Linked DNA regions of Homo sapiens: region 1 is linked to region 2. The links come from fine-mapping of genetic effects on gene expression. A gene starts in region 2. The other region holds a variant in brackets. All regions are shown on one strand. Distances are from middle to middle.

What was found. PIP is the estimated chance that this variant, and not a neighbour inherited with it, causes the effect. A credible set is the group of variants that fine-mapping cannot tell apart.
Region 1: its variant is the best candidate, but not a certain one, in a credible set for the expression of LHFPL5 in pancreas (GTEx, PIP 0.65).

Annotation. Positions count from the first base shown.
Region 1 is chr6:35,781,557-35,786,080 of GRCh38, forward strand. All of the region lies in intron 1 of CLPSL1 (colipase like 1), which reads left to right. Among named protein-coding and RNA genes, the nearest start is that of CLPSL1, 2.8 kb to the left of the region's middle. RefSeq lists an enhancer at 574-1,075. The variant G/A (reference allele first, on the strand shown) is at 2,562.
Region 2 is chr6:35,803,690-35,807,689 of GRCh38, forward strand. LHFPL5 (LHFPL tetraspan subfamily member 5) reads left to right here and starts at 1,663. Exons shown (of 4, transcript NM_182548.4): 1 at 1,663-2,393. The coding sequence starts at 1,982. RefSeq lists a silencer at 1,532-1,701.

The sequences.
Region 1 (4,524 bases), 22 kb before region 2:
GAAAGATAAAAATCCTTGCCCTTGTAGAGCTGTCACTCTAGTGTGTGAGGCAAAGAAGTAAAACATTACAATAGATGCTATTAATAATAGCATCTATCTCAGGTGATAAGCAAGGAAAGGGAAAATAAGAATCGAGCTGTGGGAGTGGTGGTGTGAGAAGGGTTTGCAGGTGTTTTTTTTTTTTTTCTTTTTCTTTTTCTTTTTTTTGGGACAGAGTCTTGCTTTGTCACCCAGGCTGGAGTGCAGTGGGGCAATCTCGGCTCACTGCAAACTTAGCCTCCTGAGTTCAAGCGATTCCCCTGCCTCAGCCTCCCGAGTAGCTGAGATTACAGGCACCCACTGCCACGCCCAGCTAATTTTTTTTTCTGTATTTTTAGTAGAGACAGGGTTTCACCGTATTGGTCAGGCTGGTCTTGAACTCCTGACCTCAAGCAATCCACCCGCCTTGGCCTCCCAAAGTGCTAGGATTACAGGCGTAAGCCACCGCACCTGGCCAGGGTTTGCAGTTTTAAATGGGGTGCTCAGGGAAGAGTTTACTAAGAATGTGAAATTTTAGCAAAGACCTAAAGGGAGGGAAGTCCTTCCTAACCGGCAAAGCAGGGGGGTCTCTGGGAGAAGAGCATTCAAGGTGGAGGGAACAGCCAGGGCAAAGGTCTGGGGGCGGAAATGTGCTGGCATATTCAAGGAATAGCAAAGAGGAGTAAGAGAGAGTGGAAATCATGGGAGATGAGCTCAGAGAGATAAATGGAACACAGTTACAATATTCTCATTTATTCAACAGTTATGCATTCAGCACCTGCAATGTGTAAGGACTTTAGTCCAAGGGGGCTAAGAAATATAGCAGTGAACGTGAGAGCAGAAGATCCATGTCCCAGAGCTGAGGTTGCTAGCGGGGGAAATAAATTATTTTTAAACATATAAATAAGATGATTTCAGAGAGTCATAAGTGTTGTGAACAAAGTACAACCAGGTGATGGGGACTGCTCTGCTGGTGTCCAGGAAGTCTTCAGCCTGAGGCAGGAGGGGGAGGCAGCCGGGCAAAGAGTGCAGGACAGGGTGCTCTGGGCAGAGGGCCAGCAAGCGCAAATGCCCTGGGGCCAGGCCAGGTGTGGATTCAGAGCCCCAGTGATGGCTTTGAATCCAGAGAATGGCATTGTGGGAATTATCTTTTAAAAAAGACTCCTCTAGCTATTCTGGGAAGAACTGACTTGAGGAGGTTGGGGAGGTGGAAGTGAGAGTGGGGATGGTGAGGGGGTACCTGGGGGAGGTCACTGGCAAGGATGGAAGCAGGGAGGCCGGGAGGCGGCTATAGCCAATCCTCCTTTCCTGCCTTATTTTCTTTATAGCACATAATCGTACATAATAGGATTATACATATATAATATAAATATTACTTATTGTTATGTATATAACATATGTGGTAAAAATCACACCTTACTAGGTGCTCAGATCTTGAGTTTACATGGAAATCAATGGATTCGAACCTATGCAGACCCCCTCATCACTACCGTCAGAACAAGATATAGGACATTTTCATTACCCCAAAAGCCTCACTCTTACTCTCCTAGTCAATAGCACCAAAGGCAACTGTCTCCTGACTTCCATTATTATAGATTAGTTTTGAACTTTGTATGATGAAATCACACAGTATGTACTTTTAAAAAAAAATTTGGGCCAGGCGCAGTGGCTCACGCCTGTAATCCTAACACTTTGGAAGGCCGAGGCAAGTGGATCACCTGACGTCAAGAGTTCGAGAACAGCCTGACCAACATGGTGAAAGCCCATCTCTACTAAAAATACAAAATTAGCTGGGTGTGGTGGCACATGCCTATAATCCCAGCTACTTGGGAGGCTGAGGCAGGAGAATTGCTTGAACCCGGGAGGCAGAGGTTGAACTAAGCCAAGAAAGTGCCATTGCACTCCAGCCTGGGCAGTAGAGTGAGACTTTGTCTCAAAAAAAAAAAGGGGGGCTGGGCGCGGTGGCTCATGCCTGTAATCCCAGCATTTTGGGAGGCCGAGGCAGGCAGATCACGAGGTCAGGAGATCAAGACCATCCTGGCTAACACAGTGAAACCCTGTCTCTACTAAAAATACAAAAAAAATTAGCTGTGCGTGGTGGCGGGTGCCTGTAATCCCAGCTACTCAGGAGGCTGAGGCAGGAGAATGGCGTGAACCTGGGAGGCACAGCTTGCAGTGAGCCGAGATCGCACCACTGCATTCCAGCCTGGGCGACGGCGAGACTCTATCTCCAAAAAAAAAAAAAAAAAAAAATCTGACTTATTTTGCTCAACGTTTTTTCTGTGATACCGTATCATTTCACTTATGTATCTCTTCCCTGTCTTCCCTCTCTAGAGCTGTGTGTGTCCAATAGTGCAGTTACTAGTGTGAACCCAAAATATCTGAGACAGGTCTCAGTCAATTTAGAAAGTTTATTTTGCCAAGGTTAGGGACACACCTGTGATACAGCCTCAGGTGGCTGGGGTGCACCTTGCTTTTTTTTTGTTTTTTGTTTTTTGGGGTATAGCTTGCTTTTATACACATTGGGGAGACATAATATGTCA[G/A]TCAGTACCTGTAAGATTTACATTCGTTTGATCTGGAAGGGTGGGACAACTTGAAGTGGGGGGCATGACTTCCATTCCAGGTCATAGGTAGATTTAAACAAATTCTGATTGGCAGTTGGTTGAACAGCTATTATCAGCAGAAGGGAATGTCTGGGTTAAGATAAGGGGTTGAGGAGAGCAAGGTTTTATCATGCAGATGAAGCCTCCAGTAATAGGCTTCATAGAAAATAGATTGTACATGTTTCTGATCAGACTTAAGGTCTTTGTTAATGTTAATGCTGGAGGGGTATTAATGAGGCATGTCCAACCCCCACTTCCCGTCATGGCCTGAACCAGTCTTTCAGGTTAAATTTTAGAGTGCCCTGGCCAAGGAAGGAGTCGACTGAGATGGCTGTGGATTGGTGGTGGTGGGAGGCTTCAAATTTTATTTTTGGTTTACACTAGCCACATATAGTTACTTAGATTTACATTGATTAAAATTCAACAAAATTTAAAATTCAAGCCAGGTGTGGTGGTTCATGGCTGTAATCCCAACATTTTGGGAGGCCAAGGTGGGAGGATTGTCTGAGCCCAGAGGTTCGAGACCAACCTGGGCAACAAAGCAAGACTCCTGTCTCTTACTGGTGGAAGGTATCTGAGTTATTGGCAATGAATCTGTATGCATTTACAGCAACCTCAATTCTTGCCTCCTCAGAAGAAAGAATTCAACTGAGGGGCATAAAGCAGAAAAAGAGACTGAGGCAGGTTTCAGAGCAGGAGTGGAAGTTTATTAAAAAGCTTTAGAGCAGGAAAGAATGGAAAGTACACTTGGAAGAGTCCCAAGTGGGCAACTTGAAGGGCAAGTGCAGTGTTTAACCTTGGTCCTACCCCTTAACAGTCTTGCCTACCTCCAGTGTCGTGTGCCTCTCTCCCCTGATTCTTCCCTTAGGGTGAGCTGACCACATGCGCAGTGTCCTCCTTACCCTTGGGAAGTGAGCACATGCAGGGTGTTTAGGAAGTTGTACGCATGCCCATCTGAGGCTTTGTTCCCTTTTCCTGTGGAGTGTGCCCCTGGAAATTTTTTTTTTTTTTTTTTTTTGAGACAGAGTCTCGCTTTGTCACCCAGGCTGGAGTGCAGTGGTGCAATCTCAGCTAACTGCAAGCTCCACCTCCCGGGTTCACGCCATTCTCCTGCCTCAGCCTCCCAAGTAGCTGGGACTACAGGCACCCGCCACCACGCCCAGCTAATTTTTTGTATTTTTAGTAGAGACGGGGTTTCACCGTGTTAGCCAGGATGGTCTCGATCTCCTGACCTCGTGATCTGCCCGCCTCGGCCTCCCAAAGTGCTGGGATTACAGGCGTGAGCCACCATGCCTGGCCCTGTCCCCGGAAATTCATACTCCTCCATTTTTTCTCTTAATGTGCATTCCCCGGGCTCACTCACCCAACACCTGAGATTTTATTGGAAGCCCTTTTTGCTTCTCTCTGGCCCCTGCTTTCAATGGACACTTTAATGTTAACAGCTGTGGACCATTAGAAGCCTGTCTCTCCCTGGAGCCTAACTGCCAAATTATCATTTTTAGAGAGGCAATGTGATAACTGTTGAACCATCACCTGACATTCCTGGTGGGTGGGGGAGAGCCCTCTCCTACCCCACTCATGCCTGTCTAACTACCTGTAACATCTCTACAAAAAATAAAAAAATTAGCTGGGCATGGTGGTGTGTGCCTGTGGTCCCAGCTACACGGGAGGCTGAGCCAGGAGGATTGCTTGAACCTAGAGGTTGAGGCTACAGTGAGCTATAATTGCACCACTGCACTCCAGCCTGGGTGACAGAGTGAGACTTTGTCAAAAAAAAAAAAAAAAAAAGGAAAGGAAAGAAAGAGGGTTGGGCGCGGTGGCTCATGCCTGTAATCCTAGCACTTTGGGAGGCCGAGGCGGGTGGATCACCTGAGGTCAGAAGTTCGAGACCAGCCTGGCCAGC
Region 2 (4,000 bases):
TCAACCTCCCAAGTAGCTGCGACTACAGGCAAGCACCACCATGCCTGGCTATGCCTGGCTAAGTTGTGTATTTTTTGTAGAGACGGGAGTCTTGCTATGTTGCCCAGGCTAGTCTAGAATTCCTGAGCTCAAGTGATCGGACTGCCTGGCCTCCCAAAGTGCTGGGATTAGAGACCACTAATGTACCTTTGAGCACTTTAAAAAAAAAATTATTATTATTATTTTTTGAAATGGAGTTTTGCTCTTGTTGCCCAGGCTGGAGTGCAATGGTGCGATCTCAGCTCACTGCCACCTCTGCTTCCCGGGGTTCAAGCAATTCTCCTGTCTCAGCCTCCTGAGTAGCTGGGAATACAGGCACCCGCCACTACGCCCGGCGTAAGTGCATTTCCTGCATTTAATAGATGGCGAAACTGAGGCTCCGGAAGGAAGGTTAAGTCCATGGATGGTTACTTAGTAAGTAGCTCATTCAAATCCAGGCCTGTTGAACCCCAAAGTCCATGTTTTTAAGATTGTCTTGTCTTTCCTTAGCTCCGGACGTTGGTGTTATTATTATTATTATTTTTTTTTTTTTGAGACGGAGTCTTGCTCTGTCACCCAGGCTGGAGTGCAGTGGCGCGATCTCGGCTCACTGCAAGCTCCGCCTCCCGAGTTCACACCATTCTTCTGCCTCAGCCTCCCCAGCAGCTGGGACAACAGGCGCGTGCTGCCACGCCCGGCTAATTTTTTTGTATTTTTAGTAGAGACGGGGTTTCACTGTGTTAGCCAGGATGGTCTCGATCTCCTGACCTCATGATCCGCCTGCCTTGGCCTTCCAAAGTGCTGGGATTACAGGCGTAAGCCCCACGCCCAGTGGAATTTTCCTAGTTCTTTACACTAGCCATGTATTTACCTATAAAATCAGGAGAAATATGTATATATATAATATATTAAAACATATATATATTTAAATGGGGAAATATGTAACAAACAAATAGAAACAAGGGGAGAAAGGCATTGTATTTGACAAAACACATATGTTCAGGTCTGAGAAGGCTCATAAAGAATGTTGTCTGCTATACTTTGTAGTTGCTTCTGTTATCACACAATCAGTCTGCATATACAGGCGTTTTATATATATATTTATATAGACTACATATATACGTATATTATATATGTAAATATTTCACTGTCTTTGAGGACGGGGGCCCTGTCTTTTTTATCTGTGGTTTTGCTTAGATGTCCTCCAACATAATCTTAACACATAGTATGCTTTTAGAAATCGTTGACTGAATGCTAAGGACGAAAAACCGGTGACCAGAAGGCAACCAGGAAAGGCTTTGCTGACCTCCGGAGTGGTGGAGTTGGAGGTTCTGGGAAGGCGACTAGGGAGCCAGGCAGGGGCGGGGTGGGATGGGATGTGGACAGCGCTTTTGCGGGGGGAAAGCGTTTTTGCTGCTGGAATTGAGCAGTAGGAATGTGTCAGTCACATCCCCACCTTCCCAATTCTTGTCATCTCGGTTCAGGAAGGTGAACGGTGTTCCGATTCCCCGCGGCGGGGGCCTGTAGTGGGAGCTCTGCCCCTTCCCCGCCTCTGCTGCAGGCCCCGCCCCTCGCCCGGAACCCCGGGGCGCTGGCCGCGGTGCTGAAACGGCGCCCTCCGCGGACGGAGGAGGGGGCGGGGCTCTCGGGAGCCGTGAGCCGGGAAGAGGGAGACGGGCAGGGCGGCGCCAGCAGGCCCTGGTGGGCTTGGGAGGAGGCAGGAGACTGGAGACAGCCTCGGCTAGAGCGGACACAGGCACCTGGCAAGCTTTCCTTGACCAAATCAAGGTTGTCCTTGTCCTATTAAGCCTCTTCCCCTTGCCTTGAAGGGACCTCACCTGGTGCCCTGACCTCAGCCTCCTCCCCAAACCCCGCTGGGGAGTGACCTGCTTCTAGGCCTCCATCCACAAAGCTACGGACTTGCAGCCCACGGGACCCCAGCCCAGGGCCTGCTGCCCTCACCATGGTGAAATTGCTGCCGGCCCAGGAGGCAGCCAAGATCTACCATACCAACTATGTGCGGAACTCGCGAGCCGTGGGCGTGATGTGGGGTACCCTCACCATCTGCTTCTCCGTACTGGTCATGGCCCTCTTCATCCAGCCCTACTGGATCGGCGACAGCGTCAACACACCGCAGGCAGGCTACTTCGGCCTTTTCTCCTACTGCGTGGGTAACGTGCTGTCCTCCGAGCTCATCTGCAAGGGCGGCCCCCTAGACTTCTCCTCCATCCCCTCTAGAGCCTTCAAGACTGCCATGTTCTTTGTGGCCTTGGGCATGTTCCTCATCATTGGCTCCATCATCTGCTTCAGCCTGTTCTTCATCTGCAACACGGCCACAGTCTATAAGATCTGTGCATGGATGCAGCTGGCTGCGGGTAAGCAGAGATGGTGGGAGGGCAGGCAGGGGCCCACCCCGGGGCCACAGCTGCAGCTGCACCATCCCAGCCTCTGCCAGGGCTCTGGGCCTTAAATTTAGCTGTTCTCCTATAGCCCAGTCCTACTCAGTGCTCTGCAGAAGATTCTGAGGAGTTGAGAATCTTAAAATGGCAGAGGCAGAAAAGACCTTAGAGACCAAGCTGTCCAACCCTCTCATCCTACAGATGAGGTTCTGAGCCCAGAACCTCATCTGAGCCCAGAACCTCATCTGTAAGGGGAAGTGACTTGCCCAGGAGCACACAGTTGCCAGTCCTGATTCCCAGGCCATCACATCAGTTTTTGCAGCTGTGAGAGAGAGAAAGAAGGAAGCTTCCATTGTTGGCCATGTGGGAATAGGACTCAACCCTAGCACAAAGTAGTGACACCAGTCAAGCACATTCTAGATGCCTTCATCTCCCACCTCTGGGCTTTTGTTCTTTTTAAGAGTGCCCAGAACTCTGTCCTCATTCTCTCTCTCCCACTCCAAACTGCTCTCAGATTCTAAGGTCTCTTGCTGATTTTGGAGTGTTACTATTATGCAGGGTATGACCTTGCCTATAGAAACTTTCATCTAAATTCCCCTCTTTCATTGTGGAGTGAAAGTCTTTTTTCCTTGATCATGGGATTTTATACTTAAGGCAGCAAATGGAGTGATATTTTGTGAGGTAGAGGAAGCTATTTAGGGTCCTTTTGTTGTTGTTGTTGTTTGTTTGTTTTTTGAGACAGAGTCTCACTCTTTGGCTCAGGCTGGAGTGCAGTGGCATGATCTCAGCTGACTGCAGCCTCAACCTCCTTGGACTTAGGTGATCCTCTCACATCAGCCTCCCAAGTAGCTGGGACTCCAGGTGCGCACCACCATGTCTAGCTAATTTTTTTTGTATTTTTTGTAGAGACGGGGTTTTGTCATGTTGCCCAGGCAGGTCTTGAACTGCTGGGCTCAAGTGATTTGCCTGCCTCAGTCTCCCAAAGTGTTGGGATTTCAGATGTGATCCACAGCACCTGGCCTAGGGTCCTTTAAAACAATGTGGGGGCTGGGCACAGCGGCTCACACCTGTAATCCCAGCACTTTGGGAGAGAGCATCACTTGAGCTCAGGAGTTTGAGACTAGACTGGGCAAGATGGAAAGACCCTGTCTCTAAAAATAATAATAATAATAATAAATAAAATAAAACAAATAAAACTGTGGGGTAGGCAGCTACTTGTGCCTTGAGGCAAAACCTCCCTGGTCCTTTTTCCTGCTTCTAGCTCAGGAAGGCTTCTTGGTCCTTGTGCCAAGTGGTCTTGCTCTTCTCTGTAGCCCAGGAAGAGGGTTAAGACCTTGTGCTGCAGCCTCTGGTACCTTGGTCCCTGCACACCTCAGGGGCCACAAACTGTCCATGTCGGTGAGATGTCCAGGAGTAGTGCCGGGGACTGGAAACTAGAGTGAAACCATCTCATTGGTCAGAATGAGAAGTGCTGTCATCTTTAAGAGGGAGACTGAAACAGGCATCTGAATCCCAGACCACCAAACATGCAGATTCAAGACTGCAGAGTTGGAGGGGACCCCAGAGAGCTATATCCACCCCCC